4 separate regions of the Homo sapiens genome follow, and regions 2, 3 and 4 are each linked to region 1. The links come from fine-mapping of genetic effects on gene expression. A gene starts in region 1. Each other region holds a variant in brackets. All regions are shown on one strand. Distances are from middle to middle.

Region 1 (8,107 bases):
CCCTTGAACCTAAAATAAAAGTTGGAGAAAAAAAAAAAAGGAAAGTATTACTGAATATGAAGCAGAGAGGATGAGTGGGAGAAACCATTTACTGAAGAAACAATCAATCAGACATGGTAACTGAATTTTTTTTAAAAGGGTATAGACCAGGTGCGGCGGCTCACGCCTGTAATCCCAGCACTTTGGGAGGCTGAGGCGGGTAGATCACTTGAGGTCAGGAGTTCAAGACCAGCCTGGCCAACATGGTAAAACCCTGTCTCTACAAAAAAAATACAAAAATTAGCCAGGCTTGGTGGTATGCGCCTGTAGTCCCAGCTACGCAGGAGGCTGAGGCACAAGAGTTACTTGAGCCCAGGAAGCAGAGGATGCACTGAGCCAAGATCATGCCAATGCACTCCAGCCTGGACAACAGAGTGAGACTCCATCTCAATAAACAAACAAACAAATAAATAGGTATAAAGGGACATGTGTAAAGGAAATAATAATGCTCAGAATCTGAAGTCTACATGGAGGCAAGAAATGATGAGACCAGTGACAGAAATAGGGAAGCTGAGAAAAGGAGCTATTTTTATGGCAATGTAGTAAGAGGAAGGATGTGGCAGGACATCCAAGTGGGGGCACCTTTTGGGCAGCTGAATATCACTGATCAGAGATAAAGAACAAATAAAGTGTTAATGGTAGCTATGATAGCGGTTATCACCAGTGCCGTGAGTATTCCTTCATTAAGGGCTGACACAGAGAACAATTATACTTATTGGGTATATTTATCAATCTTGGCTGGCAATAATGCCTGGATGCAATCACTTTATGACGCAGTTACACATGCTTTCTGATCTCAGTATTTACCATAATAAATCTGCTCCTATAATTGAGGCATACCGCCCTCAAAAACTTATTTGTAAACAGGATTGGACCCAGTTAGAAAAAATGAACGTACTTGTTTAGGAAGATTGCATTGCAGAACAGGCAGAGATGCTGCACAATGATTCCTATGGAATCATTATTAATTGGTCCCCTAAGGGGATGTTTAGCTTGAATTGCACCTCTCAGTCTGCGTGCCACGGCCACACTATGTTCAGCTGGTCTGAACAAAATGGTCAGATGGTAGATATAATAAGAAGTACAGCAAGAGTTCCTATTATCTGGAACCATGGCAGTATAGTGACACCTCAACCTCAAATGATATGGCCCGCTCTAGGAGCTTAACATAAGGATTTAAAATTAAAAGAAGAAATATTTAAAGCATCCGAGGCACACTTGACCTTAATGCCAGGAACTGGAGTGCTTAAAGGAGCCGAAAATGGATAAAAACACTTGGAAGCTCTGTGATTTCAATGATGATTGTGCTTTTAATCTGTGTTGTTTGTCTTTGTATAGTCTGCAGATGTGTATCCTGACTCCTGCGAGAAGTAGCTCACCGTGACAAAGCTGCCTTTGCATTTATCAATTTGCAAATCAGAGAAGAGGGACATGTTGAGAGCAGGCCCCCCAAAATCTGGCCATAAACTGGCCCCAAAACTGGCCATAAACAAAATCTCTGCAGCACTGTAACATGTTCATAATGGCCCTAACGTCCACGCTGGAAGGTTGTAAGTTTACAGGAACGAGGGCAAGGAACACCTGGCCCGCCCAGGGTGGAAAACCGCTTAAAGGCATTCTTAAGCCACAAACAATAGCATGAGTGATCTGTGCCTTAAGGACATGCTCCTGCTGCAGTTAACTAGCCCAACCTATTCCTTTAATTCGGCCCATCCCTTCGTTTCCCATAAGGGATACTTTTAGTTAATTTAATATCTATAGAAACAATGCTAATGACTGGTTTGCTGTTAATAAATACGTGGGTAAATCTCTGTTCGGGGCTCTCAGCTCTAAAAGCTCTAAAGGAAATCAGACCCCTGATTTCCCACTTCACACCTCTATATTTCTGTGTGTGTGTCTTTAATTCCTCTAGCGCCACTGGGTTAGGGTCTCCCCAACAGAGCTGGTCTTGACAGAATATCACTGATCAGAGATAAAGAACAAATAAAGTGAAGATAGATCTTTGACACCAAGGACAATTCACTAAAGAGTTTATCGAATGATTGACTCAGAGACCAAGAATCAGGCCTTAGGAAATACTTAGCGGGAAATGGGATGGAGAGAAACCTGAAAGAAAAAGATAATCATCAGAGAAGTACGGGGATGACAAAGAAAGAACAGCGTCATAGAAGGCATAAGGGAAACAAATGTCAAGGAGTGGTCAACTATGTCAAAACGAATAAGAACAGAGAAAACTGGATCCTTAAAGATGAGTAGCTTGAACTAACCTCCTGTACCTGGGTAACGAACATTCTGGGCAAAATATATTGTGAACCATGCTGATGTTCTTTCGCCACAAAACATAAGTGATAGCCTCTCTATCAAGAGACCTAGATTTCCTAGTGTCTGGTCCTGGGCTGTTTTCCCATGGCCCCGCTGGTTCTCTTCCTCTATTCCTAGAAAAGTATAGAAAATGGAGCTCTCTTTGCTTGCCATTGAGCTCATGTCCTGCCAACTTCTACCCAAGTGACAGGTAGGTCAGTAAAGTTACAGGCTGAGAAATTAAAATTATTTGCCAAACACTAGTTTTATGATTATCTATTAACAACAGCCACAACAAATCAAGAAGGAGTCCCAGTGTATTTCAATTAGCTTCTAGCTCAAGTGATACATGAGTAGTATGGCTAGAATAGGCATTGTAGAAGTATGAATGGAGAACTGTCTCTTGTTTTCTGTCCATCTTTATTGTTATTGCTGGATATTAAATGCTGTAATTTTTGGCATAGGTTTTTTTCCAAAGACTGGTCTCTTGGGTCAAGTTTTCCTGAACTTGCCTGGTATTGGGCAAGTTCACACAGAAAATATGAGTCATTTCACAAAGTCCTGGGCTTGTCTATCTACTTGAAGGAATAGGAAATGGACTTCACTTGGAGCATGATGGATGAGGCTTGGGCTTTTACTAATGAAATAAGTTTCAATCTTAACTCAGTTAAACCTTTAAAGACAGGAGAAAACTATCTGGGGATGGATTCAGGCCAGTGAGATCACGTTGCACAAATCTCCCCTTAAGGGATCTTTACTGACCTAGAATTGTTTCAAAATAAGATTCCAAACTGTCGAGGGAGTTTGAAGCCTTGAAACTTGGTGTAGGTTTGCTTAAAACAAAATAACGAATATACTACATTTCCCAGGAGGCTTCGCGGTGAGCCTCCGCACTCGGCTGGTTCTCTTTACCGCGAGGAAAGCTGGGAAATGTAGTGCCACAGGCAACCCTGCACGTGACGCTTGCGGAGGAAGGGGAGAGAGAGGCGCGCGGGAGGGCGTCTAGGGAATCGAGGTGCCGGCTGCTCCTTCCTCACAATTTGGTTTGTGCTGCAAGGGGAGGGTCCCCATCATCTGGCCCCAGTGGTGTAAGGAGCTGACTGGGATTCAGTCACTGACTTGGAGCCGCTCGGGGGAAGTCCCGGTGGGTGAGGTTCCGCGGCGCCTGGTCCAGTTTCTCGGCAGTCAGGCCAGGAGGGGGTGGGGAAGGTGCGAACAGCCGGGGGCTCGGAGCTCGCGCCCTGCGCCCCACCCAGGTTGCGGCCGCCCGGGGAGGAAGCGCGTATAGGTTGAGTGCAAAGTTTCCTTTTTTGCTTTCTCGTCAGAGCAGCCCAGACAGGCGGTGGGTGGGAATGCCTCACTTCAGTTTGAAGAGGGTCCGGATCCAAAGGGGTTAAAACGAGCGACCCCCGATCCCCGACCACACTTCCCGCCTCCCTAAAACGCACACCCCGCTAGCCATGGGCAGCCGCGACCACCTGTTCAAAGTGCTGGTGGTGGGGGACGCCGCAGTGGGCAAGACGTCGCTGGTGCAGCGATATTCCCAGGACAGCTTCAGCAAACACTACAAGTCCACGGTGGGAGGTGAGACGTCTCGGGGGTGGGGAGGGGGAGGGGGAGGAGGAGGCCCCGACCGCGGACTCGAGCTGGGGACCCAAGTGGGGTGGGGATTTGCTGTCGGTTGTTGGGTCCTTCTTCGGGTCAGGAAGTACTGTCTGGGAACCTAGATGGTGTAATTGCCGGGTGTTTGGTTTACACGCCTCTCTTGAGTTTCCCGTTAGATTTTCCCAAACTGAGCCCACTGCCAGGAGAAAGGTAAGAGCAAAGGCGTGAAGATGAGAAATAGGGAAGGGAGGATGAGGATGAGCAATTGCTGTTTATTGCAGGCGTACTGTGAACTTAAGTCTCCAGCCTTTCAGCTGTCCGGCAAATCTCTCCAATCAGCAGAAGCAGCTGAGATCCTCTGTGGGGCCTCCTGGTTAGGTGCCGGCTGGGGCTGTAGTCCTGCCCCTCTGTTGAGGGAGGAACCGCAAGGTGTTTAACCTGGCTTCAGTGGGAGAACGCAGGAAGCGGAACTGGTCTGAAGGACTGTAGCTTTGTTGTGGGGCTGTGGGTGGGATGGAAGACACAAAATCCCCGAACGAGCCCCTTGGCTACGCAGTCAGATGCCCATGAGGGCTGATGAGCTGTGTTTTTGTCCGTTGATTGCTTAAATAAAGGTAACCAAGGAATTCTTCCAAGAATGTGAAATATACCACTTCTCTGACCTATCTTCCCACCACTTTTTTCCTCAAACTGGAGAAGGTAGGGAGGAAGGGGACACCGAGTTCATTCATTTCTTTCCCGGGTGTGGCCTTTGGACTCAACTATTTTTTCAGAGGCAGAAATGCCTTATTGTTAATTAGAAGGTATTTAGCTAGGAAGAGCTGGTGATGGGGGAGAGTAACTTAAAATTTTATTTCTCTCTGTTAAAAGAACTTGTTTCAAGGGGGGAAAACTCGTACCAATGGAAAAATTGAAAATGTGTGCTCCTGTTCATATGGAAGTTTAAAAAGAAATTAACAAACATTTACATTGCAATTAAAACATTCTCCTTAAGAACCCCCAGTAGGGCCCAGTACCGTGGTTCATACTTGCAATCCCAGCACTTTAGGAGGCTGAGGCGGGAGGATTGCTTGAGCCCAGGAGTTCGAGACCAGCCATGGGAAACATGGCAAGACCCCCACCTCTACAAAAATTAAAGAAGAAAGTAGCCGTGGTCCCAGCTACTCGGGAAACTGAGACGAGAGGATTGCTTGAACTGGGGAGGTCGAGGCTTCAGTGAGCCCCGTTCGCACCACTCACTGCACTGTAGCCTGGGCAACAGAGTGAGACCCTGTCTCAAAAACAAAGGAACAAAAAATTTAAGTCTGGCAAAATTAAAGGTTCAAAGTTTCAGACACTCTATCCTGACCGCTCTGCCCTCCCACTCCTAAATAATATAAGGGTCCCTATTTCACGGATTTGGGTTAAAAGTGGCCTGCTATTAATAGTTAATTTTTAACAATTGCTGTAGTTTTCCTTTAGCAAAGAATATAATTGGCTAATTTTTTTTTCAGTGTTTAGTCTAAATTTCCCTTAGCTTTGATTCCTGTCACAGATGTGAAAGATAATATTTCCAAACCTCAGAAATTACTCTGTTTCTCTCCTTAGCCAAAAGGCTTTCCCCATGGAATACTTACTCAGCCTTAAGGAGTCTCAGCACCTGCAGACTTGGTGGTAGATTCCAGCAGGACTCTTCAGCAACATCCACACAGTGTCTTCTTCTTGGGACTCCTCTGGGACCTTTTCCATTTATTCCATTCTTGCCCAAGATAATACCTGCAACCTTATGGTGGATGTAGAGTTCCCCAGGGTGTGTTCTTTTCATAATACAATTTGATTAGAAACCAACAGTGAAATTGAATGTGGAAGATACGAAAGCAACCACACTTGTCTCATTTCCCCCTTCTCCCCCATCACCCCTTCCCTGAGAAAACCCCCTAAATCTCCCAGAAACTATTTAACCTGAGAATGAGAATTGTTTTCATAGTTACTCCCACCCCCAGTCTTGGAGACAAACAGTAGCAAATAAATGAGCTTGACAGTAGAGTAAAAGCTGGAAACCCCTTTGGAGAGTGAGTATGAATCATCCATCTCACACTAAATACACGCATGTGGACTCATCTCAGTGAATTGAGGGCTTAAAGTTAAACATATGGGATTGGAGTTGTGTGTCCATAGGGTTTCACTGCCTATTTGATTTGAGTTTATCCCTATTAATTTTTTACAGTGAAATTTTATTAAAGTATAATGTACATATATTTTCAGTGGATTTTGCTCTGAAGGTTCTCCAGTGGTCTGACTACGAGATAGTGCGGCTTCAGCTGTGGGATATTGCAGGTAAAGTGGGAGGGCTAGATAGGAACAAGGGAAGAAATTTTGATTTAACTAGAAAGCTCTGAGGAAAAAATGGGGCAGCAAAGCCAGAAATTGTTTTTCTGAAGCTGGAATGATTGAGCTGCTCTGAGGACACATGAGCTGAATAGGTGCAGAGCTTTTGTAGATGTTTTGCCCTGAATAGATCTGGAGCAGTCTCTATGTGGATGGAGGGGCTGGCAAGGTGGTGGATTGTCCAGACTATAGGTGGACACTCCCACAGCAGGGGAGGGTGCTTTTTCTAGGTTTAAGGCTGACCTTGGTGAAAAACAAGATCCCCAGAAAATAGATACAGTAAAAATAGTGAATCCTTACTATGTGCCAAGCATTCTTCTAAGTATTTTAAATTCACTGACTCATTAATCCTCACATCAACCCTATCATAAAAGCTACTGCTTTTGGAGAATTGCTTGAACCTGGGAGGTGGAGGTTGCAGTGAGCCTAGATGGCACCACTGCACTCCAGCCTGGGCAACAGGAGTGCAGGAAACTGTTTCAAAAAAAAAAAAAAAAAGCGACTGCTTTTATCTTCACTTTACAAATGAGAAATCTGAAGCACTGAGAGCTTGATTTGCCCGAAGTCAAATAGTATGCAGCAGAGCAGGGATTTGGACTGGAGCAATCTGGGTGCGGAATCTGCCTTGGAAATAATTGGGCTTCATTATCCCTTTATGGGATAGAAAACCAAGAGTCAGAGGGGGAAAGTGAGTGGCCCCATCTGACACATATGCTTACTGCCCTCTTCTACAAGGAATGGGGAGAGGCCGGCTCTTGGGTCACCTTGAGAACTCTCCCCTTTCTCCCCAGGGCAGGAGCGCTTCACCTCTATGACACGATTGTATTATCGGGATGCCTCTGCCTGTGTTATTATGTTTGACGTTACCAATGCCACTACCTTCAGCAACAGCCAGAGGTGGAAACAGGACCTAGACAGCAAGCTCACACTACCCAATGGAGAGCCGGTGCCCTGCCTGCTCTTGGCCAACAAGGTATGTGGCCAATCTCAGAAAATGGTCCCTAGCCTCTATCTGTGGTTAGAAAGGAAGTAAAATGCTCTCTGATTCTGGGCATCCATTTCCCCTTCTTAAGTTGGCAAAATCATCTCTACCTCCTTCAAAGGATGTTGAGGGTGAGTGAGACTTTCTTTCTTTTTTTTTTTTTTGAGACGGAGTCTCGCTCTGTTGCTCAGGCTGGAGTGCAGTGGCGCGATCTCGGCTCACTGCCAGCTCTGCCTCCCAGGTTCACGCCATTCTCTTGCCTCAGCCTCCCGAGTAGCTGGGACTACAGGTGCCCACCACCACACCCAGCTAATTTTTTTGTATTTTTAGTAGAGACTGGGTTTCATTGTGTTAGCCAGGATGGTCTCGCTCTCCTGACCTCATGATCTGCCCGCCTCAGCCTCCCAAAGTGCTGGGATTACAGGCGTGAGCCACTGCGCCCAGCCAAGGGTGAGACTTTCTTTGGGAAGAATGTTGATTATAGATTTCCGATGCTGGTGTTCTTATCCATTGGTGGAAATATGTTTAAAATCCACAGTATCTGAGCCATATTCTTTCTTAGTTGCAGGAAGTTTATGATACTGCCTTTTATTTTTTCTCTTTGCTAGTGTGATCTGTCCCCTTGGGCAGTGAGCCGGGACCAGATTGACCGGTTCAGTAAAGAGAACGGTTTCACAGGTTGGACAGAAACATCAGTCAAGGAGAACAAAAATATTAATGAGGCTATGAGGTAAGTAGCTCATGCTGATAGGCATGCAGATGTATCCATCTTCCACTGTGGCCCTGTGGACCCTCTTTTCTTATTTCTGAGCC
Region 2 (8,107 bases), 740 kb before region 1:
GACCTCTCTGCTGGAGACACACAAAGGTTTCTTTACAGCTGCATCGCTGCAGCCAGGACCACCAGAGACTTCTGGAGAGACCTAGGCCTATTTCCCACAGACCCCCCTAGCAGCCTTTTAAAATGACATATGACTTGCTCCTTGGCGACATGCTTGCTTAGCTCCTAAAGATACCCGGTGGGCTAATCTAGCTCTGCCTGTTAATTATGTGATGTGGTAAACTCAATGATAGGAATTTTTCCAGGGAATGTGTTTGTGAGTTTATGTCTCTCCTCTACTTTTACCTGGGCAACCTTCAAGTCCTATGTCTCCCACTGAGATGCAGGCAGTCCACCCTGGTCCAGGTACAATGGAGGGGCAGACAGCCGTGCTGCAGGCTTGTCCCAATGACCCACGGGGAGCAGTTATGAAAAGTCTTCCTGGGAGCACTCAGCAACAGCAGCTCCCAGTGCAGGGCTTTCTATGCACCAAACATGGTTTCAACTGTTTGACATTTAATTTACCCCACACCAGTCTGAGGTTGAGATATTCTGCCCTATCCTATACTTGGAAAAATGAGGCTCAGAGAGGTTAATCTGTAGGAGGAGCCACAGCCAGAAAGTGGTAACTCCAGGATCCTGACTCAAGGCAGCCTGGCTCCAAGCCTGTTTTCTTTTCTCTTTTTTTTTTTTTTTTGAGATGGAGTCTTGCTTTGTCAACTGGGCTGGAGTGCAGTGGCGCGATTTTGGCTTACTGCAACCTCCGCCTCCCGGATTCAAGCAATTCTCCGGCCTCAGCCTCCCGAGTAGCTGGGATTACAGGTGCCCATCTCCTTGCCCAGCTAATTTTTCTATTTTTAGTAGAGACGGGGTTTCGCCATGTTAGCCAGGCTTGTCTCGAACTCCTGACCTCAGGTGATCTGCCTGCCTTGGCCTCCCAAAGTGCTGGGATTACAGGCGTGAGCCACCGCGCCCGGCCACCAAACCCATTTTCTTAAATGCCACACTCCAGGCTGCTCATGGAGTCTTGTGAGTGAGATGAGGATATTCCAGATGTCCACAGTCTGCAGTCCACCTTTCCCATCATCTTGAGCATCCTGTCTTCTCCCCTCCTCTTTTGGCAATTAAGCCCAAATGCTAACACAAGTTAAGCAAGCCCATCATAGCCACAGTGCGGTATGTGCCCTGACCTTAATGCTGCCCCTTCAGGCCTGATTGATTTTACTTAAATCTATAACTCCTTGGACTGAATAGCAAAGGAGCGAGGAAATGATCTGCTGAATAATTCTTAAAGAGAGAGTAAGGGAGGGGGAAAGAGAGGATGAATACCAACTTGCTCGTGAGCATTTAAATTGAGCAACTCGGTGTCCAATTCTCTTCTCAGTGAAGGTCACAGTATGTATTAGGATATTGATGAGGATAAATTATTCAGGCTGGCTAAGAAATATTTGTCTCCAAATGGGGATTAGGGCTAGTTGAATTAAAATTCCCACTTCTCAAGAGGTAAAGCCTTAATCAGAAAAATCGTATTTTTCATAGTCAAGATCCTATTTTTAAAAATCTGCTTCCAAAACTTAGTCCAGAGATGGCACTTCATTTTAGTCCCATCCCTATGACTTAGTGTGGTGACCTGCCTAGATCCCCACTGATTCTTGAAAGTATATGAGAGAAGTATAGAGAAAAATGGGGACAGGGGGCCCCAAGAAAAGTATGTATGCTCCAAAGAGTGCCAACCGTTAAAGAGAAGCAGGTTCCAGACCCAGCCAGATGGCAATGACCTTTAACAAGGGGCCTTACTTGTCTGAGCTATCTCATCTGTGAAACAGAATAATCCCCTTCCCATTCCCACCACACCAGGATCTGGAGGGAATAAATGATATTAAAAGCAAACAAACGTAAATGCTCTGAGTGTTTAGCAGAGAGTGCTACAGAAGTGTAAGATGCTGTGGACAGCATGAGACAGCGGAAGGAATCCAAGGCTGGAAGGCAGGTGCCCAGGGTTCATAGTCCTGGCACTGCCACCAGCAGGGCCTTTTGTTGGTCCCAGCTTCCTTTCATTGGAAAAGGGGCATGGGATGACCTAAGATCCTATGATGATTTGGATTGCTGTTGTCTCTGCCTCTTATCTTTCACTCACCGCTATGCCGTCCAGTTATCCTTCTTCAGGCGAGGACTGTTCTTGCCCTAATTAGTGCTCAGGAGAGGAATCAGTGGTCTGGCCACTTCCCGAGGCCGGGACTCCTGTCAGCTGTGCTCCACCCAGCAGCCTTCAGCCCCATGCAGCCTGCACCTTCACTAACTCTGCAGGTGAGAAGCCTTTGCCTGGGAAACATCACTGCTCCCAGGTCCTCAGAAGGCTGACTCAGCAACTTGGCAGGGTCTGAAGGGCTACAGGATAGGCAGAATGGAAAACAGTGGCCATCCGAGATACCCATATTCTGCCAGCTCAGGGACCCTGATTAAGACGACCGCTTGGCCCTAATTCTCAGCCAATAAAAAGTTGTTAAAATCCACTACCCACTCAAGGCCTCCAAAACAGGCAGACCATGTCCTTTGGATCTGGCTGTTCAACCCATACCAGGCAAGGTGACAGCACCTGTGCCTTTGTCCTTGCGGAGTCAGGAGGGCCAAGGAGTGGTGCTGAGCTCAGCACTAAACAGCAGACTGCCAGAAAGATCCTGTACTCCTTTTCTATGGGAGAAGCCAGTAGCAGAGGCCTCAGAACCCAAGCTCCCCCAGTCAGATTGGCTTAGACCTACCCCGAGCCCTCCGGGCCCCGTTGCGGAACCTCTGCAGGATCTGGTGCTTTTTGGAGACCGAGCGGCTCTTCGGGAGCCTGCAGAAGAGCCGCTGGAGCTGAGCAGTGACTGTCCCAAAGCAGGCAGCGGTTGCCTTCTCCTCCTGGCCCTCGGTCATCTCAGCGCCAGAGATCAATAGCTTTTCTCCAGGCTTGGCGTCAGGGGTGGAGTGCCGGGTGGGGGAGGGCTCCGGGGAGGGCCCTGGGCCTCGCATGACCTGGACAGTCACCTGGACCCTCAGGCTCTGGTACCCTCAACGACTGACGATGCCTTCTGTCTCCGCACTGAGGTCCTTTCCCCTCCACCTCCCCCAGTGGAAAACTTTCTATTCCTGGGGCTTTTAGCTTGATAAGATAAAAATGCCCCCACCAAACAGGCTGCAGGGAAGAGCCTGCCCCGAGCCTCACTTCTCAGTCGCGCCTGTGAGTCTGAAAATCAATGTCTCCAAAGTTTCAGACGACAGAAGTGATCGGTTACCTCACACCACGTGCCCAGCCCAGGAGCTCGTTAATGGATTTCTTTGGGGATGGTGGATTACTAATGCTTCACCAGCTGTACAGGCTCCTAAGGGACAAACTGGGGCTAATTCACATCCTCCCATGCTAAGCCCAGGGTGGGGGAGGGGCCCATAAGGAGGTGGTGTTGCTTTAAGAGGGTCAGGCCATTCATTTTTCTGAGACTAGATACCTGAGCAGAAGCGGATGTGACCCTATGGGTGTGGGGTGGTGAGAAAAGATCAGTCTGTCACAAAAGGGCAGAAATATTGTTCTCTTGCCCCAAAACAGTACTCACAGGTGTTCTCTCACTCTGACTCCCAGAAGCTGCCAAGCCCTAGTAGAAAAGTTCTGGGAGGCCCTGTTGCCCAGTCCAAGACAGAAGACTGGCACCAGACAGGCAGCAGAGCCTTCCAGAAAAGCCACTAGAGAGGGGTGTCCCTCCCAGGCTGCCCAGAGATGACAGGACTCACCTGCCAACCACCAGCGGGGACCAGCTTAACATGAAGGAGGGACACTTGTTCTTTTTTCTTTTTTTTTGAGACAGGATCTTGCTCTGTCATCCAGGTTGGAGTGCAATGGTCCAATCATAGCTCACTGCAGCCTCGACCTCCTGGGCTCAAGTGATTCTCCCACCCCCCAGCATGTAGCTGGGACTACAGGTGGGCACCACCACACCCAGCTAATTTTTATATTTTTTGTAGAGGTGGGGGTCTCACCATGTTCCCCAGGCTGGTCTCGAACTCCTGGGCTCAAGAGATCATCCTGCCTCAGTCTCCCAAAGTGCTGGGATTACAGGGGTGAAGCCTCCATGCCCAGCAGGGACACCTATCCCTTAACCAGAGGAAATCCACCTCAGAGGACTCACACACTTGCAGAATCTCTGGTGGAAGATGCACTTATACGTCTGTGCTCAGATGCCACCCTTCCTCAGTTGCGGACTGATTCTTTCTCCCTAATGCTTCCTCAGGGAGAAGGGAGCTGCCCATGGCCTTTGTTGTGGCCCTCTCTAGTTTACCAAGCAACCTCTGTACCAGAAGAAGGGCATAAGCAAGTCCGGGTCCTGAAATGACACTTGGGACCATCAAACAAGGGGTGGGGGCCAAGTTCCTTGCCCTGCTGGTCCTTGCACCCAAGATCTCCAAGAGGGCCTAGGAAGTCCTGCCTGGCTGAGCACAGGCAAGGGCTCATTCCCATCCC[C/T]GCCCTCAAAGAAGAGAACACAGGGCTGCTGGGGGAACTTTAAAATATGAGTCACGGCCAGGCGTGGTGGCTGATGCCCGTAATCCCAGCGCTTTGGGAGGCCGAGGCAGGCGGATCACAAGGTCAGGAGATTGAGACCATCCTGGCTAACACGGTGAATCCCCATCTCTACTAAAAATACAAAAAAATTATCCGGGTGTGGTGGCACGCACCTGTAGTCCCAGCTACTCAAGAGGCTGAGGCAGGAGAATCACTTGAACCCAGGAGGCAGAGGTTGCGGTCAGCCGAGATTGCACCACTGCACTCCAGTCTGGGCGACAGAACGAGACTCCATCTCAAAAAAAAAAAAGTCACGTGTAATGCGGGGAAATCCCTTCCGAATGCACCGTTTGGGCTGCAGAATATGCTGACCTCACTTCTCTTTTCTCCTCATCACTGAGCTGTTCTTTGACAGGTTAAGCCATTGGGAAAGACAACAGGAAAGAACTGGCAGAGTCTGGAGATGGGGCTTTCAGAAGCTCTAGGATCTTCATTCCTGACCTTTGGAAAACTAGATAGATTTTTCTACTGTAATGATGGTCTGGGAGGAGCACTACCTAGAGACAGGGAAATGCCTGCAATGACCTCTTGCTGTCTCTGACATCTAAGCAATGACTCAATGACCTCCATGCTGGAGGCAAGTTCAGCCATGGCCCAGCATAATTTGAAGCAACAACCTTCACCATCTTACTTGCTGGGGTACAATATATTATCACCCTATTTTATATAAAGGTACCTCCAGATGGCTTTTAAAAAACACTCATCACTAGGGTAGACATTCATGGACAATATGCTCAACGCTTTCTCTCAAAACTCTCATGTTACAGCTGGAATCTGTTCCAGTTGAATAATAAGGCATCTCTGAGGTTTTGTTTGAGGTGGGGGAGGTTAATACTTTCTTCAGATGCAAAAAATAATCCACATAATTCTTTCAGCAGAGACCACCAAGTCTCCAACTTCCATTCAACTTGGATAGAAAAAACAGCCTCCTGCAAATCAGCAAGAAAAGTAAGCAATGGTACCTGTTCCCAAATAAGAGATGAACCTGGAGAAATATAGAGAGTCAGAGCTGGCTTGGGGGTGGGAGGTTTCCCCAGATGTATTTTTTCTCATGGGGCCACATCACTGCCTGAGATTAGAGCCAGAGGTCCATTAGGCAGCTTCAGATTATTGTCCAGTCCCTATCCATGTCTTCTTCACCCTAGCTGTCCCCTCTAGGATCCAGTCTGTTAATTTCACTTTGGTTCCTGACTAGTGCTGTGTCATGAACTCTGAGAGCTGGGCCATGGCAAGAAGGAGGACTGGAACAGAAAAAGATCCTCCACCTGCATTTCCAGGCCCACCCCCTACACACCCTGAACACCTACGGGGTGAGGTGGGAGCGGGGAGAGACACACTTATTTCTTTCATCTTAGGATTTGGAAAAACTTCACCCTTTTTCTAAAGATCTCATGATTTGCACATGGTGACAATCAATTTAGAAACTGATTGTTGAAAATTGGCTTAAGTGGAGCCAACTCTCAATTACCCAGCCCTGGCTGATTCTCTAGCTTGTATAGGGCTCACCTCCCTTTTTTTCCTGTACCTCCTTTTTTGGACATTTCAGCATTCACCAGCAGAAGGGCAGCAGATGGATAAGTAAACTCAACTAACTTGCGTGATCAATGATATTAGCCTAAGGCAAAATGCCATGCTGGGTTCTGGTGCTGGCTTTGCTATTAATGATCTGGGTTATCTTAGCGAAGTCATTTGACTTCCCTGAATGCTGTGTTTCCTCATCTATGAGATGGCCCTGATTACATCAGTTCTACCGACGAAACAGAATTGCAATCCTGACAGAGGCAGTGCACATCAAACGGCCTTAGTGATAGCCAAGTGCAACAAAAGTTATTTCTGCTCCCACAGTTTCTTTGCCATTCTCAACTCTTCCTATTCCATGTGAATATACTCATCCTAGCAGGTTCACAGAATGCCAGCTTGTATCTTCAGCAAACACAATGATAATTCTTTTCCAGCTCTAGCATCCAGTAGAAACAAAACATAAAAGGATTTTAAAAAAATAAGAACATCACTCTTCTTTTTGGCCTGACTTTCATGAACCTGGAGTCTGATTTCTTAAAGGTCTATGTAAGCCAAGTTTTAATTTTCTAGCAGCCCCAGCCAATGGCCATTGCAGATGTCTAAATAAGACCTGCCCCACCCTGGAAATATGTTTGTTCAAAAAACAGGAATGGGGAGCAGAAGGTGGCACATAGGCCCTCCACTGAAGAATAAACCTGTCACAGGTAAGTGTCATACTCAGCCATCCACTCACCTGCTCAGTGCCACACAAAAATGAACAGACTACTCTTTCCAACACCACCCCTCTTATAGACCCTCAGCATGCACATCTTGCATTCCCCCCGATCCCTCTGCCCCATGCCCTCAAATGGGGCCAGGGCAGTAGTTATAGGTAGGAAAATCCGAAAGAAAATCTAGAACCTGCTACAATTCCCAGGGGTCACCAGACTCCTCAGCCAAAGTGGGGCATTCTCCCCTGGGAGGCTGGACACATGCTATGATGCCAGGAGGGACCCCACTGCCCTTCCTCCTTCCTCTCCAAAAAGGGTAAAAAAAGAGAATCAAACCTCAAAGATTTCCCAATGGGTACATCTCTCACAAACCTTTGTGTACTCTAGGAACCACAGGCATGCTAGAACAGGCCCGGCATGGCCTTGTGGGCCACTTCAGCCAAAGACCACACCATGGAGAGTTCTTGGGGTCTACCAGGCTCTGCCCAAGTCTCCTCAGCATAGTTATGAGTGCTTCAGAAAAAACTCAAAAGTCACTTCCCCAGGTGTGAGTCAAGATAGTCTTGACCTTGGGGTGGGGCAACCCATGACTGCTCCCAAGCCCCGACTTTATTCCACTTAAACCAGTGCCCCCAGGGAACCCAGCCTTCTGCCTGGTCTAACGTCATCACCTCAGCCTCCTCGCTGTTTCCCCTAAGCCCCAAAACTGGCTCTGTTCCCCTTCCGACCCTGAGATCCAGCCCGGAACATGTGGAGAAAGGCTTGCCAAAAGTCTTGGAAAAAAACTGAAAATGACTAAATGCAAAACCATCTCCCCAGTCAGGCCCGGCCTTCCCAGCTGCCGCCAGCCCTTCCCCACCCAGCCATGGAGAGTCAGAACAGAGCCCTGCGGGAGGGGCAGGTGCCCAGAGTCAGCAGAGACAGAGCGAGACCCTGCAGGGAGGCAGAAAGCATCCTGCCACCAGCACAGACCCAGGTCTGCAAGCTTGTGAGAAGGAAATCATACCAGCTGGTGCTGACTGAGCCCCAGGAACATGGTTCCCTCAGAAGGGCTGGGGGTGGGGAGCTTGCATGCTTTGCACACCCACAAATACTCACCCACCCAAGAATACTCACCTTGCCATCTGAGGAATGCGAACAGGAAGGGCCTCTGGTGAGGCCAGAGATGTGTTTACAGGTTCCTCAGCAGCCTTCATAGTAAGCCTGGGCAGAGCAAGAATGCCAGCAGCTGCCCTCCATGGGGAAACTGAGGAATGAGGGGTGGGTGTGGGAGCCAGAGAGAACCCTGTGGGAGAACACTGGGGTGC
Region 3 (8,107 bases), 62 kb after region 1:
AATGGGTTTGTTCAGGTATCCATTTTTAACAAAGAAGTTTGTGTTCATATAGTAAAAGACCTATCAGTGTTTCCACCATGCACTTCTATTTTTTAGGAGTTTATAATTTTAAGTCTTACATTCCTAGTAACATTTGGGCTTTTCTTAGGTTATGTTTCGTGAAGATTTGGGGGGAGGGCTCTTTTAAAACTTCAGCCTCAGTTGTTTAACAGTCTCTTTAATATATTAATCTGCACTAACATCTCTGTGATATATGCACATATTTTAGAGGTAATCATGTCTTCTAGATTACTTGTGTGCATTTGATTGGGCTTCTTGTTTAGGGTCCCTTTTAAAATTAATTCATTAGATTGAAAAATGTATTCTATATTTCTGATAGACTGGACAGAAGGATCTGTGTCCCCAAGTGAGACAGGCTCTGAATAACCTTTGTTTTCTCCACTTTTTATTGATGATTTAAAACACTCTAGTCTTCCCCTCAAATCATGCATGCAAATAGGAGGACAGTGGTGGTGACTCAACTGGATACAGGTGCTCAATAGTCAGGCTTGATAGTGATGTCAGGACGCATTACAAGCTGTAAGCCGATACTGACTGGCCATTGGCACCATCCTTGACTAACCTTCCTCTTTTTCTCTAGTGTGCCTATGGTGAAATGGCAATAGCATTCACTGTCGTATTTTGCAGTGCTCAGGAAGTGGGACGTTAACTTTGAAGGTGCTTGTTTGTATTAGCTCTGCTAGGTTTACCTCTACAACGTAGATTTCAGCAGCTATGCTGACTGACACTACATTCTAGTTCTTAAGATTTTTTTTCCAGATCCCCCCTTCCCCAGCTAGACATACGTAGCATACTTTCATCTTATTCAGTCTTTCTGTAACCTGCTGCTGCTTTTAGTCCTCCTCACCTCAGATCGGAATCAATGGAGTGGGCCCAGAGGATACATTTTAATTCCAGTAATGGTAGGTAGATTTGTCCTGCTTTCTAAAACATCTCCTCATTTCATATTTCCACTCCATATTGATTCCATAAGGGAAAATTAATGGGTGTTTCCTCCTTTAGGGAGGTAATGCAAAGAGTGTGGACATCTTCTAATCTTGAGGAACAGTAGTTGATTTCCCTTGAAGGAGCTTACATATTGACTGTTTTCACAATAACCTGTTTGCCCCAGTTCAATCCTCATTTTAATACTTAATTTGGTACTGGCTCAAATAGCATTTTCTTACAGATAACAAATCAAGAGTGAAATTTGAGGTTATACTCCAGTAAAGTTTTTAACACTTGTGAATATGGTCAGCTAGACTAAACTTGACTCTTTTTTTTAATGGCTTTTTTATCTGTGAACATTCAGATAAGTGGATTTTCAAGTACTGGTTGGGGATGGGAATCGTGCTTTTCTTTAAACTTCAGTTTACGAGATGCTTTGAGAGCGTTAGGCAAAAGCAGAAATAAATATCAGGAGCAACGGGGAAAGCTTTATAAAAGATCATGGTGGCCACTGTTGCAGCTTTGAAGAATGAGTGCTGGCTTGAACAGTTCTTTGCCTGCATCATTGGTAGCTGCACTGAAAGGAAAAAACTTTCACCTTAAGAATTTGAAAAGGAAGAAACCTGGGCTCTGGTCTTCATGGCATTTAGACTGAGATGCTTAAACAGAACAGAAGTAATACGCATTTCCTGCCATAGGATAGGGAAAATGTAACAAGCTGGTTGCTCTTGAGGTTAGAAAATTGTCTGTTTCTCTGTGGATGAAGCTGGATTTACTTGAAAATGGAGAGTTGGCTTATTGTTTGAATATTGGGACATCAAGCTATCTATAGCCAAGTTTCAGTCGCAACCAGTTTTCCCTTTGTCTGGGGTAAATTCGATACAAAATGATTCTTTTTGAATCCTGAATCCATAAATTACACTTTTTTTTTTCAAATTCACAAAATTCACAGTGGTGCTGACTGTGTAATAACCACTATTGGGAAACATCCCGTAAACCTGCCTGTTGCCATGCCAATGGAGTGACTGAACTGGTGACATCTGTTTGAGCATGCTTTGTGTGGCTGGTAGAATGCCACCGTTGTGCATACACTTTGTACATCAGGGGTGAAGGGAGGGTTTTCTAGATTATTGGGGGAGGGTAAAATTGGGATTTTTTTGTTGTTCCTTTTTTGATGGGGTGTGGGGGTATAGTACTCAGCTTATGCCCTAAAATAACATGTATAAAAACCCCTGAAGTATTGTGTGGGTGTGTACGTGTGAGTGTGTGTTTGTATACATCTGGCAATTAAAGCTTTGTCTTCTGGAACTTAGTGAATTCTTTTCTCTTTTTCCTCCAGAAGTATTTGTTACAAGATTTGTAAATAAGAGCTCTACTTAGTTTGTTTACCATGAACATGTTGCAGCAAACCTTATGCATCTAATTCCTACAAGGTTAAAGAAAGGCTTTTAGACTTGCCAGGTTAAGCAACAGCCAAGTTCTCAGTAATTGTTTGCCTTGATTTATCTTTTAGACTTCATTTTGCCAGCTCTAAAACTCCCAGTCTTCCTTGATTTTAGTCCTTAATCTTTTATGTTCTGAGCAGGAAGGGTAAAAGACAGGAACCTGCTTCACTGTATTAACTAGTCCATGGGCTGAGACCGGGGCATCTCTTTTCTTCATACTGCAATGTTGCTAGATACATGATCAGACACCAGAGGGTTGGGCATTCTTGCAATACCTTAACAGTGCTGAAATCTGCAGCATGGTACTAAGGAAGTTAAAGTTTGAATGTAACCACTTTATTTAAAAGGTTTTTTTCTTTAATTTAAATGAAATGGGGTTGAAGTGAACATGATTTTGTTGACCATGTTCGTGAATTACAGATGCAACATGCATTGGTAGAATCGTGTGATGGTCTTTTGTGATACTTAATTTTTACATATCCCAGTCTCTGTATGTATCTGCATAGACAAAGAAAAAACAAACTCCTGCTTTGCTTTTATTGAAGGGTTTCCAGGACTGCGTGTCTGCTCCTGAGCTCTGTTTTAAGTATGTGTATCCTTTGCTTGTATTTTGTATTAAAAAAATAAGAAAAAGAAGCCTTTATTGTTGAGCATGTTGGCATTGTCCCCTTTATTTTTTTCTCTTTTTGGGACATATGAAGCAAGTTATTCTTTTTCTGTATCTTTTTTTCTTTTGTAAACTTTTTTTTTGTTTTGTTTAAAAATGGCTTTATAAAAGGGCTTTTATAACCCAGATGTGTGCTCTGTGTACTTCTTGTAATACCTTAAAGCAAACACACTAACTTACACAGCTTTGTTAATCAGCTCCCAGTTCAGCCTGACTTTGTGGGAACTTATTTCCCTAATAAATTATTTAGAAACTTTAACAGTGACCATCCCTGTTGTTGGTAAAAGATAAACATGTCTTGGTTCAAAAGTTAATACCTCAGGATGGAATCAAGAAGCAGTAGACTTACCAGTTTGATTAATTAAGGGAGCACTGGACTGGGTGCGTAAGGATTCTTAATTAGCATTTTTTCTCATGTTTACATCCAAGGTTATGAAGTGTTGTGGAAAGCAAAGTTTAACAATCATATATAATAAAAGATAATGTTTATACTCACAGAACACACTTGCATTCAATTCCAAATACCCATAAGAACTACGCTGAATTTTGAATTAAAGATTACTTGTTAGGTGGACAATGTGGTACAAGATCCCTCTTTAGAACTGGGCTGATATTGTAGCTATTAGGGCTTTTTTCTTTTTAACTTTTCCTCTTGTTTACATACTTGCCTTGTCAGCCAAATACTATAATTGAAATGCAAATTTGGCTTTGAAATTAAATGCTTTGTGCATCCTGTTATCCGTCAGTGACTAGCTAACTTTTTAAATTTCTTTCTTTCTTTTTTTTTTTTTTTTTTTT[G/TG]AGATGGAGTCTTGCTCTTGTCGCCCAGGCTGGAGTGCAATGACATGATCTCAGCTCACTGCAAACTCCACCTCCCGGGTTCAAGTGATTCTCCTGCCTCAGCCTCCCAAGTAGCTGGGATTACAGGCATACACCACCACACCTGGCTAATTTTTGTATTTTTAGTACAGACGGGGTTTCACTATGTTGGCCAGGCTGGTCTTGAACTCCTGATCTCAAGTGATCTGCCCACCTCGGCCTCCCAAAGTTCTAGGATTATAGGCGTGAGCCACCCCTCCCGGCCATTTTATTCTTTTTCGGAGATATGAGAGTCTTGCTATGTTGCCTGGGCTGGTCTCAAATTCCTGGACTCAAGGGATCCTCCTGCTTCAGCTCCCCCAGTAGCTCAGATTACAGGTGCAGGCACACTGCCCACATACATTTATTTCTTAATATAATGAGTTGTCTCAGGTTAAAGTTGAATTTGGATGAGCATTAACCATCTACTTTTCCTCATAATCCTTAAGTATTTTATGGATAACATAGACAATTTTATGTTTCAGGACAGTGCTGAAGAAATGCAGTCTGATTTAAAGGATTTCAAAAACCAACAAGTGGATAAACAGATGAAGAGAGGTTAAAACACACTTGGAGCTACCTAGACTCCTATCCATGAACATCGGTATACAGTACTACACTGTAGTTGTGCAACACATATTACCTCATTTAATTTTTCCAACAACTGTGAGATCGGCAAGTGTTTGTTCTTCCAATATTGTAAAGAATAACCTGGTTCAGGTAAGATGAGGTTTTATGTGGTACCTGATGTAGCTAGTATGTAGTACAACAAGGGTTTGAATCAGTGCTGTGTGCTTTAAGTTATCACAGTTGTTCGTTCTAAAGCCAGCTCCCTTTGGTATACATGGGTCCCTTAAGCCTTCTTCCTGGTATTGAGCTTTTGAGCATTTTGCTGTTCTCTCACATCTCCCAGTAACAGTGATACTTGAACCAGTCCAATGAGTTACATCAAAGATTTAATGGGGAAAGTCGGAAACTTCAATGAGTAAGGAGATTTCTCATTGAATACTTCGGTTTGCTTGAAAATCCTGGTGACCCCTAGACACAAAGCCTCAAATTATTTAAAAGCTTTTATTTTCTGATTATGTCTCATGATAGTGACTGTTGAGGAAAATGTTCGTCATGTTGACTGTATAGCAGTTACAGTCTGCCAGTAGAGGGCAGTGTTTGTCCTCCATAGGTAGTGGAATGCTTGCTCTCCCCATCTCATTTTTAGATACTATCAGACTAGGCTCAGGACATTTTTAGATACTGTCGGCTAGGCTCAGTTGATATTCTGCAAGTGTATCAACACCTTGCCACTTACTTGGGTTATCGAAGCCCTGTGATCAGTGTACCCAGTTAACATCCTAATGTATGTAGCAGCAATCTTTTCTGAATTTTAAATAGGAAATAGAATTTCTTGATTCATGCACATCTGTCTTCTTGTGTTGTTCCCTCTTTATATCTCCTAAGCCTATGTGGATAACATCCCGAAATAGAAGTGCAGACTGAAATTTCAAAATGCAGCTGTGAACTCTTTGCCCTATTTTGAAACAGGTGTTGTCTTTGAAATTGCCTTCCAGCTCAAAAGCCTTGTTTCTTGTACAATCAGCACTGATATGTGTTCACACACAACAAATACTTAGATTTGTTTTCAAGGTAATATGGTAGTTTGTGTTCCTTTATCTTGATGACTTGCTTCTCTTTTCCTCCATTATCTTACTAGAATAGATAGGTACTCATTTTGACATGCTTTGGCTGGGTCACCACCAAGAGAAATCAGTATTATTCATGGGTGTGCCCCCTGGTTCAATAGTAAACCCTGCACAAATATTGTGAAATAAATGCTGTGTTAATTCTGGGGTCAGGGAGTGAGAGGGTACAGCCAGAGTTCCCATCCTAATAAAGCAAATAATTACTTTAAACTATGATAACAAAATGTTGGAAATAATTGTTTGCCTTGATTTAGCAGTAAGCTGGCACCCAGAAGGGATTTGTTTAAAAATCTAACTTTAAGGAACAGGTTGATCAAGGAAGAGTACACATATATATTATTATTGGTAATGTTTTAGCTATTAAGTTGAATACACAAACCCTTTTATTAGAATGTGTAAGACCACCTCCTTGGCTGATGTACAAAGCAATGTGTGTAATAGTTATACTTTTTCCATCTTGGGAAGAAACACAAATACACAGTCTATATGTAGTCAGGGCTCTCCTGATTATAAGAGATTAGGGTAGATGGGTAAAGTAAGGCTCTGAAGGAGATAGAAAGTCATTGATCCAAGAAAAATGATAGCCTAAATTTTAGGATATGATAACTACCAATTTGGTAACCCTAGCTGATTGGTTATCTGGTAAGAAGTGTCTCATCCATAAAGAACTGAACGTGTGTAGTAATATAATTAACAAAAAATAAGGTGCAGTGGCTCACACCTGTAATCTCAACATTTTCAGAAGCTGAGGCAGGAGGATTGCTTGAGGCCAGGAGTTCATACCAGCCTGGAAAACAGTGAGATCCTGTCTCTACAAAAACAAAATAAACAAGTTAGCTGTGTATAGTGGCATGCACCTATAATCCCAGCTACTGGGGAGGCTTAGGAGGAAGAATCACCTGAGCCCAGGAGTTCAAGGCTGCAGTGAGCTATGATCGCACCACTGCACTCCAGCCTGGGTGACAGAATGAGACCCTGTCTCTTAAAAGATAAAAAGAAATAACGAAAAATAGATTGTGAAACACTGGTGTTTACCAAGAAGTGTGTAGACAGTGACCCACACTGGATCCTCATTTTGTGGCTATAAATTGGGTCTCTTGTGGTTCACTAATTCAGCCTAGAGGAATACAAATACTAAACACTTTAAAAATATCGTTTTACTTCTAAGGTAATCAGGAATAATGATATAGCTAAGCTCTTTTATAAGGCACTAAATGTCTTTAGGAATCAAAGACTCAATGGACGTTCTGTTTAGACCTTGGAACATAATCTGGGGCTTCAGTAACCTGACTTCAAATCTAATGCATGCCACATCTCAGTTACAAACCCCAAGCTCCCCCTGTTTTGTCTTTTCCTCCTGCTTCTGACCTAATTAACCCCATCTTTCTTTTCCTTCGTGTGTGTATGTGTGCGTGTGTGTGTGTGTGTGTGTGTGTGTGGATGAACAGTTAGTTTCCATGGGGTTAGCGTTTTTGAGGCAAAAATATTGTTTATACATCAACTAGATAGTCCTAGAGGTGGATGGGGAACCAGCTGTTCGGTAGAGAGCCACACAGTTGGCCTGAGTACAAGATAAATAGCATTCCTAAGCTCTGTTGTAGGGAATGCTGGTGTGACTTGAAGTACACAGGATATACACAGTATCTAGTTCAAAAGAGTGGTTTTTGTGCTAAACCTTATAAAATCACCAGTCCTGGGCCATTGGCAAAGCAAGTCAGTCCTTTTCTCACCTTGCTTTCCTTTCTCTTGCCATGCACTTAAGGGAAGCAATAAGACCTCTAATATTTAGCTCTTGGGCTACTCTTCTCTAGAAGTCAACACCATTGCACAGTCACTGTGCAATGAGAGAAGCAGATGGCTCTCTCTCTGGGAGAGCTAAGTCTAAGTAAGGACACACTAATAATACCAGACAGTGGAAACAGGAGTTCTTAGAGCACGTGTTGCTTCCACAGGTCACCTCTGAATTAGCCAGCAATATTTATTGACAATGAAAATTGTGGTGACTATATTCCACCAAAAATTGGGATCTGTGCTACAATGAAGAGTTCTTTCATATTCCTCAACAGGAAAAACAGTTTAAGGTATAGTTTGGTTCTCATGATATTGGCATGTCTGGATACTTCTATGGTTTAAGGGACTGAAGCAGACAATGTTGAAAACTGGAGTATTCCAGGTAATGTATGTGAATAGTATAAAAAGTGCAACAGGTGTTCCACAGCAGAGTTCAGAACAGCACATCGTGCTAACTATAGCATGAGTAGTCATTTGTTTTATTTGAACCCCCAATCACTTTTCCTTGTCTGGCGACCTGCTTTGGAGAAGCTATGTGGCTGGTTGCAGATGAAGTCAGATCAATCGACAGGGTGATCTTGGGCAAGTCAGCTTATCCGCCTACCTCCCACTCTATGCTCGTTTCTTCTTTTTATATAATGAGGATTATAAGGGACTGATTCTCC
Region 4 (8,107 bases), 42 kb after region 1:
GTTTTGCCATGTTGGCCAGGCTGGTCTTGAACTCCTGACCTCAGGTGATCCACTGCCTCGGCCTCTCAAAGTGCTGGGATTACAGGGGTGAGCCACCACACCTGGCAATTACTGGAATTTTCTTAGCATAGGCTGCCTTGGAGATCATGAGAAGTTCTCAGTCATTCTCTTCTAGGGATATTTGTTAACAGGATACAAGCTAAAGGTTGAATTAGATTGTCTAGGGTCCAGTAGCTCTACTACATATAATACTCTCAGCACCACCATATCTCCCACCCCCACGACCATCAGACTTTGATAGGTTTTATGAATGCTTTAAACTTAAAAAATGATTTAAAAATTTTTGATCTAAATGGTAACCTGAACTTTGCCATAAAGTCAGAAATAAAAATAGGGAGGGCTGGATGTGGTGGCTCATGCTTGTAATCCTAGCACTTTGAGAGGCCGAGAAGGGAGGATCACTTGAGGCCAGGAGTTCAAAACCAGCCTGGGAAACAGCAAGACTTGGTCTCTACAAAAAAAAATTTTTAATTTACTGGCTGTTGTGACACACACCTGTAATCTCAACTCCCCAGGAGGCTGAGTTGGGAGAATTGCTTGAGTCCAGGAGTTTGAGGCTATAGTGAGCTATGGTCACACCACTGCACTTCATGCACTCCAACCTGGATGACAGAGCAGACCCTGTCTCCAAAAAAAAAAAAGAGATATTTTGGTATTACATTTTAGTGAGATGAACAAGAAAACAAAGACAATCTTTCTGAATGATACTAGAACCAATACTTTTAAGACTTACATATTTTTCAACAAAGTGACTTAATCATCATATCCAAATAAGAGTTAGTTATGTGTTCAAAATTACAGTGGTATTCTGGGTGGAACAAGTTAATACTTATAAGTAATAATAGCTGTTATTGATATTTATATACCTTGCACAAATGTTCTGAAATGTTCTCAACACTCTTGTTATTCCTGTAACAGGTATTGTTATTCCTGTTTTACAGATGATGAGACTGAAGTTCAGTCAGGGGAAGTAACTTGCTTGAGGATATACAACTAGTAAGAGTCAGGACGTAAATTCAAGAATCTGTGTTTTTAACCTCTCTGCTATATTGAAATTTTATGCTGTCCTCCAGTTCTAGTTATTGATACTCATTTTACATTGAAGAGTTAGTTTAGCTTTGGCATTTAACTATCATGTGTCACATAGCACCAGGGATACATTCTGAGAACTGCATTTTTAGGTGATTTGCATGTATTTCCACAAAACCAGATGGTGTAGTCTCCTGCACACCTAGGCTGTATGGTATAGCCTATTGCTCCTAGACTACAAACATGTATAGCATGTTACTGTACTGAATACTGTAAGCAATTGTAACACAATGGTAGGTATTTATATATCTAAACATAGAAAAAGTACAGTAAAAATATGCTATAATAATCTTGTGAGACCATTGTCATGTATGCAGTTCACCATAATGTCATGCAGCACATGATTGTATTTTGAAGAAATTAGAATGTTTCTTTGTTTTCACCTAGAAATAGAACCTCTCATGCCCTGGGACTTAAATGAAATTCTTAAATGCTGGATTTCTGTCCTATCATCTCATTAGGAACAAATTCATCAAAAATGTATTTCAACCCCAGACAAAGCAAGCCTTTAAGTGGTGGAAATAGTATGTTATTTATATTATTTTGAATAAGCATCTTTAGGAGGCAGGACATTGTTTGGGAAATAAACTTTTTTATTTTTTTTTTGAGATGGAGTCTTGCTCTATCACCCAGGCTGGAGTGCAGTGGCACAATCTTGGCCCACTGTAACCTCCACCTTCCGGGTTCAAGCGATTCTTGTGCCTCAGCCTCCCGAGTAGCTGGGATTACAGGTGACCGCCACCACGCCTGGCTAATTTTTTGTATTTTTAGTGGAGATGGGGTTTCACCATGTTGGCCAGGCTGGTCTTGAACTCCTGACTTCAGGTGATCCACCCACCTTGGCCTCCCAAAGTGCTGGGATTACAGGCGTGAGCCACCAAGCCCGGCCTGAACCAAATTATTATGAGTCATTATGAGTCATCATGAATGGCCCTTGTTATCACAGATCTTTTATTTATTTATTTTATCTTTTCCCTCTTTAGCATTTATGGATGACTATATTTGTTTCTGACTGGTTGCCCTTAATAAGGCAGAATTGCTTCTATATTCATATTTTGCTTTACACTGATTTTATGGTATTTGTGATAAATGGCATATGAGATCATTCTGGCTGTTTTCAGATCATTGAAAGTTAAAATACTTCATATTTCAACGGAAGGGATAGTCTTTCAATTTAATTTTAAAATTTAATTGTTTATATAATGCCAATATAGTCTACATGGCATTTCTGTAGTTCTGTTTGTTGAAAAGTAGGATAGAAAAATATGTACTAAATAAAAAGTATCCTTTTTAGTGTCTTAGGTTTAAAGTAACAAGTTACAGGCCAGGCCTGGTGGCTCACACCTGTAATCCCAGCATTTTGGGAGATTAAGGTGAGAGGATTGCTTGAGGCCAGGAGTTTGAGACCAGCATGGGAAACATAGAAAGGCCCCGTCTCTACAAAAAAAAAAAATTGTTTTTAATTAGCCAGGCATGGTGGCTGTGTGCCTTTCTGTAGTTCCACAAGCTAAGGTGGGAGGATCACTTGAGCTCAGGAGTTGGAGACTGCAGTGAGCTATGACTGCCACTGCACTCCAGCCTGGATGACAGAACAAGACCCTGTCTCAATTGTTGGATGGATGGATGGGTGGACGGACAGATGGAAGATAGGTAGGTAGGTCTGTCTAGATAGATACAGATAGATATACAGGGAAGGAGGAGGAGATTAAGTTTTCTTCTGTTGTGGAGGGCAGTTAATTTTTAATGACAAATGCCATGAAAAACAGTATTGTGATCATAATGCAATATGATCATTTGCAGTGACCATTTTCTATATTATATTTTAATATAATGCCTGCCATTTATGTTATTTATTAAATATTTTATTTATTATTTAATTTATTATTTAAACATTTAATTTTATAGAATATCTTTTAGATCTGTCAAGCAATTTAGGTTATCAGTTCCAACAGAGGAAGAACTAAGGCCCAGAGAAATTACATGATTTTCTTGACATTCTAGAACCAGAACCCAGGATTCCTAGTACAAAGAGTCCATACTAATTCCTTTCTTGAGTGTTTCTAGTGATAGAGTAAGGAAGTAGCCATTGTTAGCAGACAGTTAAAGCTCTTTATGTTGAACCTACACTTAATGTGATTGCTAAAGCTAAGCTGTACCTCTACTACTCCTTTCACATCAAAGCCCTAAAGTAGCTAACATGTTTTCCCATTTTACAAGTTAAATATTCTCAATTTATTCATTTGTTCTTCATATGATATACCGTTTACCATTCTGGTTGTCCATCCTTATGTAGTTTCATAGGATATATCCATTGCTACGTCGTACCCAGAAATGGGGTAATAATATGTTAGTTGCCACCCCACAAGCATGGGATAAGCTAGAATTATACCTACAAGTTCGGAACCTGTATTTTAATTATTAGAGGATAAGATGTAAGAGTTCCTCTTCTAGATACCTTTCTTCCCCTGGTTCTATGACCCATTTTTTTTATCCTAAATAATACAGAAAATGGTCGTGTTTGCATTATGATCATCATACTATTTTTCATGGCATTTGTCATTAAAAAATCACTGTTTTGCCAGAACATGGCAGGCATTTCCATAGTAGCCCAAAAATATTAGATTTTTTCATAGTCATATTTTTAAGAAAGAAAATATATTTTTATTGTAATAAAATATGCTTAGCATAAAATTTACCATCTTAACTTTTTTTTTTTTTTTTGAGACAGAGTCTTGCTCTGTTGCCAGGCTGGAGTGCAGTGGTGCGATCCCTGCTCACTGCAACCTCTGTCTCCCAGGTTCAAGCAATTCTCCTGCATCAGTCTCCCAAGTAGCTGGCACTACAGGCACGCACCACCACGCCCAGCTAATTTTTGTACTTTTACTAGAGACGGGTTTTCACCATGTTGGCCAGGATGGTCTCGATCTTTTGACCTCATGATCCGCCCACCTTGGCCTCCCAAAGTGCTGGGATTACAGGCATGAGCCACTGTGCCCGGCCCATGTTAACCATTTTTAAGTGTATAGTTCAGTATTGTTAAGTACTTGACATTGTTGTAAAGAACTCTTAATCTTGCAAAACTGAAACTAAACCCACTAAACAACAGCTCCTCATCCCCACTCTTCCAGCCTCTGGCAACCACCACTCTACTTTCTGTCTCTCTGAATTCATCTACTCTAGGTCCCTCATGTACATGGAATTAATAGTCATATTTAAAGTTAGCTTTCCTAATAATATAGTATCTTTGGTAATATAAACTCAGCTTCTTACAATAAAATATATAGTTGGAGTATATTTTATAGTTTTGTTAAACTAAAGAAAAACAGAAGGTGGAACTCCTTAAGAGCCTTGTTTTTTCTCTTTCTAATGCTGAGTATGTAACTATATATTCCTCTACATATAAGCCCAAGCCTTTTTTTCCAGAATTCACCTCCATCCATACCATCTCCACATACTATACTAGAAGGTGGACCAGTGTTTGCAGTCTGACCATCCTGTCTTTGAATTTAAATGGTGTCTTAATCTATACAGCCAAGAATATCCCTCTGCTCAGGTTTAAGTATAGGTGGTAATGTATATTTATCTTAAATTTTTTTTTTTTTTTTGAGACGGAGTCTCTCTCTTTCGCCCAGGCTGGAGTGCAGTGGCGTGATGTTGGCTCACTCACTGCGAGCTCTGCCTCCCGGGTTCAAGCCATTCTCCTGCCTCAGCCTCCCGAGTAGCTGGGACTACAGGCGCCCGCCACCACACCCAGCTAATTTTTTAGTATTTTTAGTGGAGACGGGGTTTCACCACGTTGGCCAGGATGGTCTCAATCTCCTGACCTCGTGATCTGCCCGCCTCGGCCTCCCAAAGTGGTGAAATTATAGGCGTGAGCCAC[T/C]GCGCCTGGCCTATTTCTCTTAATTTTTTAAGTTCACTTGATCAATTTAGGCCTACAGTAACAGTGCATTTTTTAATCTAAGGCTCTTTTGCCAGGTAGGCTGTTTGGGTACTAACATGGAAGCTTACATGTATATCTCTAGAGAAGAAGTATTAAACTTTTAGATTTAGAGTGCAGAGTACAAAAATAGAAATGAAGATTTGTTTGAGATGTTAAAGATACGTTACTTGATAGGGAGTACTTAAAGTCATTTAGAGTCAAATAGATTCTGCAGATATTCTCACTGTTTTGATTTTGTAATAGTCAGGACAGGCTAACCATTCACTTTATTAAGACCATGCATATATCCCCAGAACTAGTTCTTTCCTGAGGTCTAGTTTTATAAATGTTGCTGATAAACCAGGTCTGTAAAATTGGAAAAGGAAAAAAAAAGTTTAGAAACAAAAGAATAGAGTCAAATACATAGATGTACATAAATCTGTGAGGCTTTCATAGTTTTTTAAATAAAGCATCTTTTGACTGGACCAATTAATTTGTTTCCTTCCCCTTCTGTATAAAGCTTAACATTACCATAATTTTTGTGCATTATAATGTAACTGTACTATACCTAAAAATTGCTTTTGCCTTGAAAAGCTTAGTAATAACCTTGTTTATCAAGTATACATATATATGTGTGTAGCAGTAAGAGTAAAATATCATTTACAACTTTAGCTTATAAATAGGGCATCTTTGTATATAATGAATACATAGGTACATGGTGATTTGGCTCATTTTGCTGTTTTATGTATATTTGTTTTGAGAGACGGGAGATTGTTTTGTAGAAAAGAATGGTATTTGAGACCGGGCACGGTGGCTCACGCCTGTAATCCCAGCACTTTGGGAGGCCAAGACGGGCGGATCACGAGATCAGGGGAGACCAGCCTGGCCAACATGGTGAAACCCCGTCTCTACTAAAGATACAAATATTAGCCAGGCGTGGTGGCACACGCCTGTAATCTCAGCTACTCGGGAGGCTGAAGCAGGAGAATCGCTTGAACTTGGGAGGCAGAGGTTGCAGTGAGCCAAGATCTCGCCATTGCACTCTAGCCTGGGCGACAGGGCAAGACTTCATCTCAAAAAAAAAAAAAGAGAGAGAAAAGAATGGTATTTGAATTATCACTGAGATGAGCAGTATGAGAATTGTAGCTTGACATACTTGTGGTTTATGCTATGCTTTCTTATAACAGAATGTTAAGTACTTAGGCTTAAGTGGGGGCCTTTAAAAAATAATTTTTGGCTGGGTGCAGTGGCTCGTGCCTGTAATCCCAGCACTTCGGGAGGCTGAGGCAGGATGACTACCTGAGCTCAGGAGTTTGAGACCAGCCTGGGCAACACCAGGAGACCCTGTCTCTACAAAAAATGAAAAAAAATTAGCCAGCATGCGTCTGTAGTCCCAGCTACTCAGGAGGCTGAGGCAGGCGGATTACTTGGGCCCAGTAGGTCAAGGTTGCAGTGAGCCATGATTGTGTCACTGCTCTCCAGCCTAGGCGACAGAGTGACACCCTGTCTCAAAAAATTAATTAAATAATTTTCTTTTTTTTTCTTTTCTTTTTTTTTTTTGAGATGGAGTTTCACTTTTGTTGCCCAGGCTGGAGTGCAATGGAGGTATCTCGGCTCACCACAACCTCTGACCCCTGGGTTCAAGTGATTCTCCTACCTCAGCTTCCCAAGTAGCAGGGATTACAGGCATGCACCACCACGCTTGGCTAATTTTGTGTTTTTAGTAGAGACAAGGTTTCTCTATGTTGGTTAGGCTGATCTCAAACTCCCAACCTCAGATGATCCACCAGCCTTGGCCTCCCAAAGTGCTGGGATTACAGGTGTGAGCCACCACGTCCAGCAATTAAATAATTTTCAAAGTGCTAGTTCAGTTCTGTTTATGAAAGAGAAATGTGTGTTCTGATGTCTTAGAAAAATCCTACAGTTTTATGATTTTAATTAGAGTCTCTTCTTTCTACAGAAATAGGAAGGTTGTTGATTACTCACAGTTTCAGGAATCTGATGATGCAGGTAAGTTTTGTGGTTTCAACAAATTTTAAGTTGGACTGACCAGTGGAGGTTACCAGCTTATATAGTTTTATTATGCTTTTGGAATAAGTTTTACTTTTTTATTTTTAGATCATTTACCAAAACCATGTCATGATCTGTGTCAACCAAAGCAAAAGTTGAACTTACATGGATTTTAACTTTTCCTTGGTAAATCATTGATAATAAACATTAAAAAGCTTTTTTCTTACCTGGTTTTGGAGTCCAAAGTTTAAATGTCCAGTAATTCTGATACAGTGTTCATTGCTTAAAATATCTCCTGCTGTCAGCCAGTCGCCATGGCTCATGCCTGTAATCCCAGCACTTTGGGAGGCCAAGGTGGGCGGACCACTTGAGGTCAAGAGTTCCAGACCATCCTGGCCAACATGGTGAAACCCCATCTCTGCTAAAAATACAAAAATTAGCCGGGAGTGTTGGCATGCACCTGTAATCCCAGCTACTCTGGAGGCTGAGGCAAGAGAATCGCTTGAACTCGGGAGGCGGAGGTTGCAGTGAGCCGAGATGGCGCCACTGCACTCCAGCCTGGGCAACAGAAAGAGACCCTGTCTCAAAAAAAAAAATCCACTACAGCCAGGCGCAGTGGCTCACGCCTATGAATCCCAGCACTTTGCAGGGGAAAAAAAATCTCCTGCTGTTACTACAATAAAACTTGTGCCTTGTATTATGTTTTTACATAATAAAGCAACTAAGATGAGAGTCTGTTTTGTGAAACAACTTATATTTATGAACTAATTCATCAAGGAATGAGTGTTGTATAGCTAAGTCTTAGCCATAAGAGGTTTTTTCAGAGTTGTCTCCTTAATCTCATTACTTTCCAGGTATGTTTACTATTCTTTTTTCTTTCTTTTTATTCTAACTTTTCTTTATAAAGATAATATGTGCCCTTTGGGAAGACTTAGAAAATACTGAAAGATATGAAGAAGAGAAAAAAAATAATATGTAGCACTAATATTTATTAAATGCTTGCTACATGTCAGGAATTGTTTCAAATGT

The links.
Region 2: its variant is fine-mapped to the expression of RAB29 in pancreas (GTEx, PIP 0.96).
Region 3: its variant is fine-mapped to the expression of RAB29 in naive CD8 T cells (Schmiedel 2018, PIP 0.95).
Region 4: its variant is fine-mapped to the expression of RAB29 in whole blood (TOPMed, PIP above 0.99).

The regions. Positions count from the first base shown.
Region 1 is chr1:205,770,650-205,778,756 of GRCh38, reverse strand. It overlaps RAB29 (RAB29, member RAS oncogene family), which reads left to right and starts at 3,275. Exons shown (of 6, transcript NM_003929.3): 1 at 3,275-3,484; 2 at 3,671-3,924; 3 at 6,190-6,261; 4 at 7,104-7,285; 5 at 7,903-8,024. The coding sequence starts at 3,801. RefSeq lists an enhancer at 4,361-4,410.
Region 2 is chr1:206,513,175-206,521,281 of GRCh38, reverse strand. All of the region lies in intron 1 of RASSF5 (Ras association domain family member 5), which reads right to left. Among named protein-coding and RNA genes, the nearest start is that of RASSF5, 9.7 kb to the right of the region's middle. The variant C/T (reference allele first, on the strand shown) is at 4,471.
Region 3 is chr1:205,708,311-205,716,417 of GRCh38, reverse strand. NUCKS1 (nuclear casein kinase and cyclin dependent kinase substrate 1) reads left to right here. Exons shown (of 7, transcript NM_022731.5): 7 at 1-3,596. Among named protein-coding and RNA genes, the nearest start is that of SLC45A3, 32 kb to the right of the region's middle. The variant G/TG (reference allele first, on the strand shown) is at 3,898.
Region 4 is chr1:205,728,543-205,736,649 of GRCh38, reverse strand. It overlaps NUCKS1 (nuclear casein kinase and cyclin dependent kinase substrate 1), which reads left to right. Exons shown (of 7, transcript NM_022731.5): 2 at 7,029-7,078. LOC124900423 (small nucleolar RNA SNORA72) reads left to right here and starts at 5,298; the gene lies at 5,298-5,429. The variant T/C (reference allele first, on the strand shown) is at 5,030.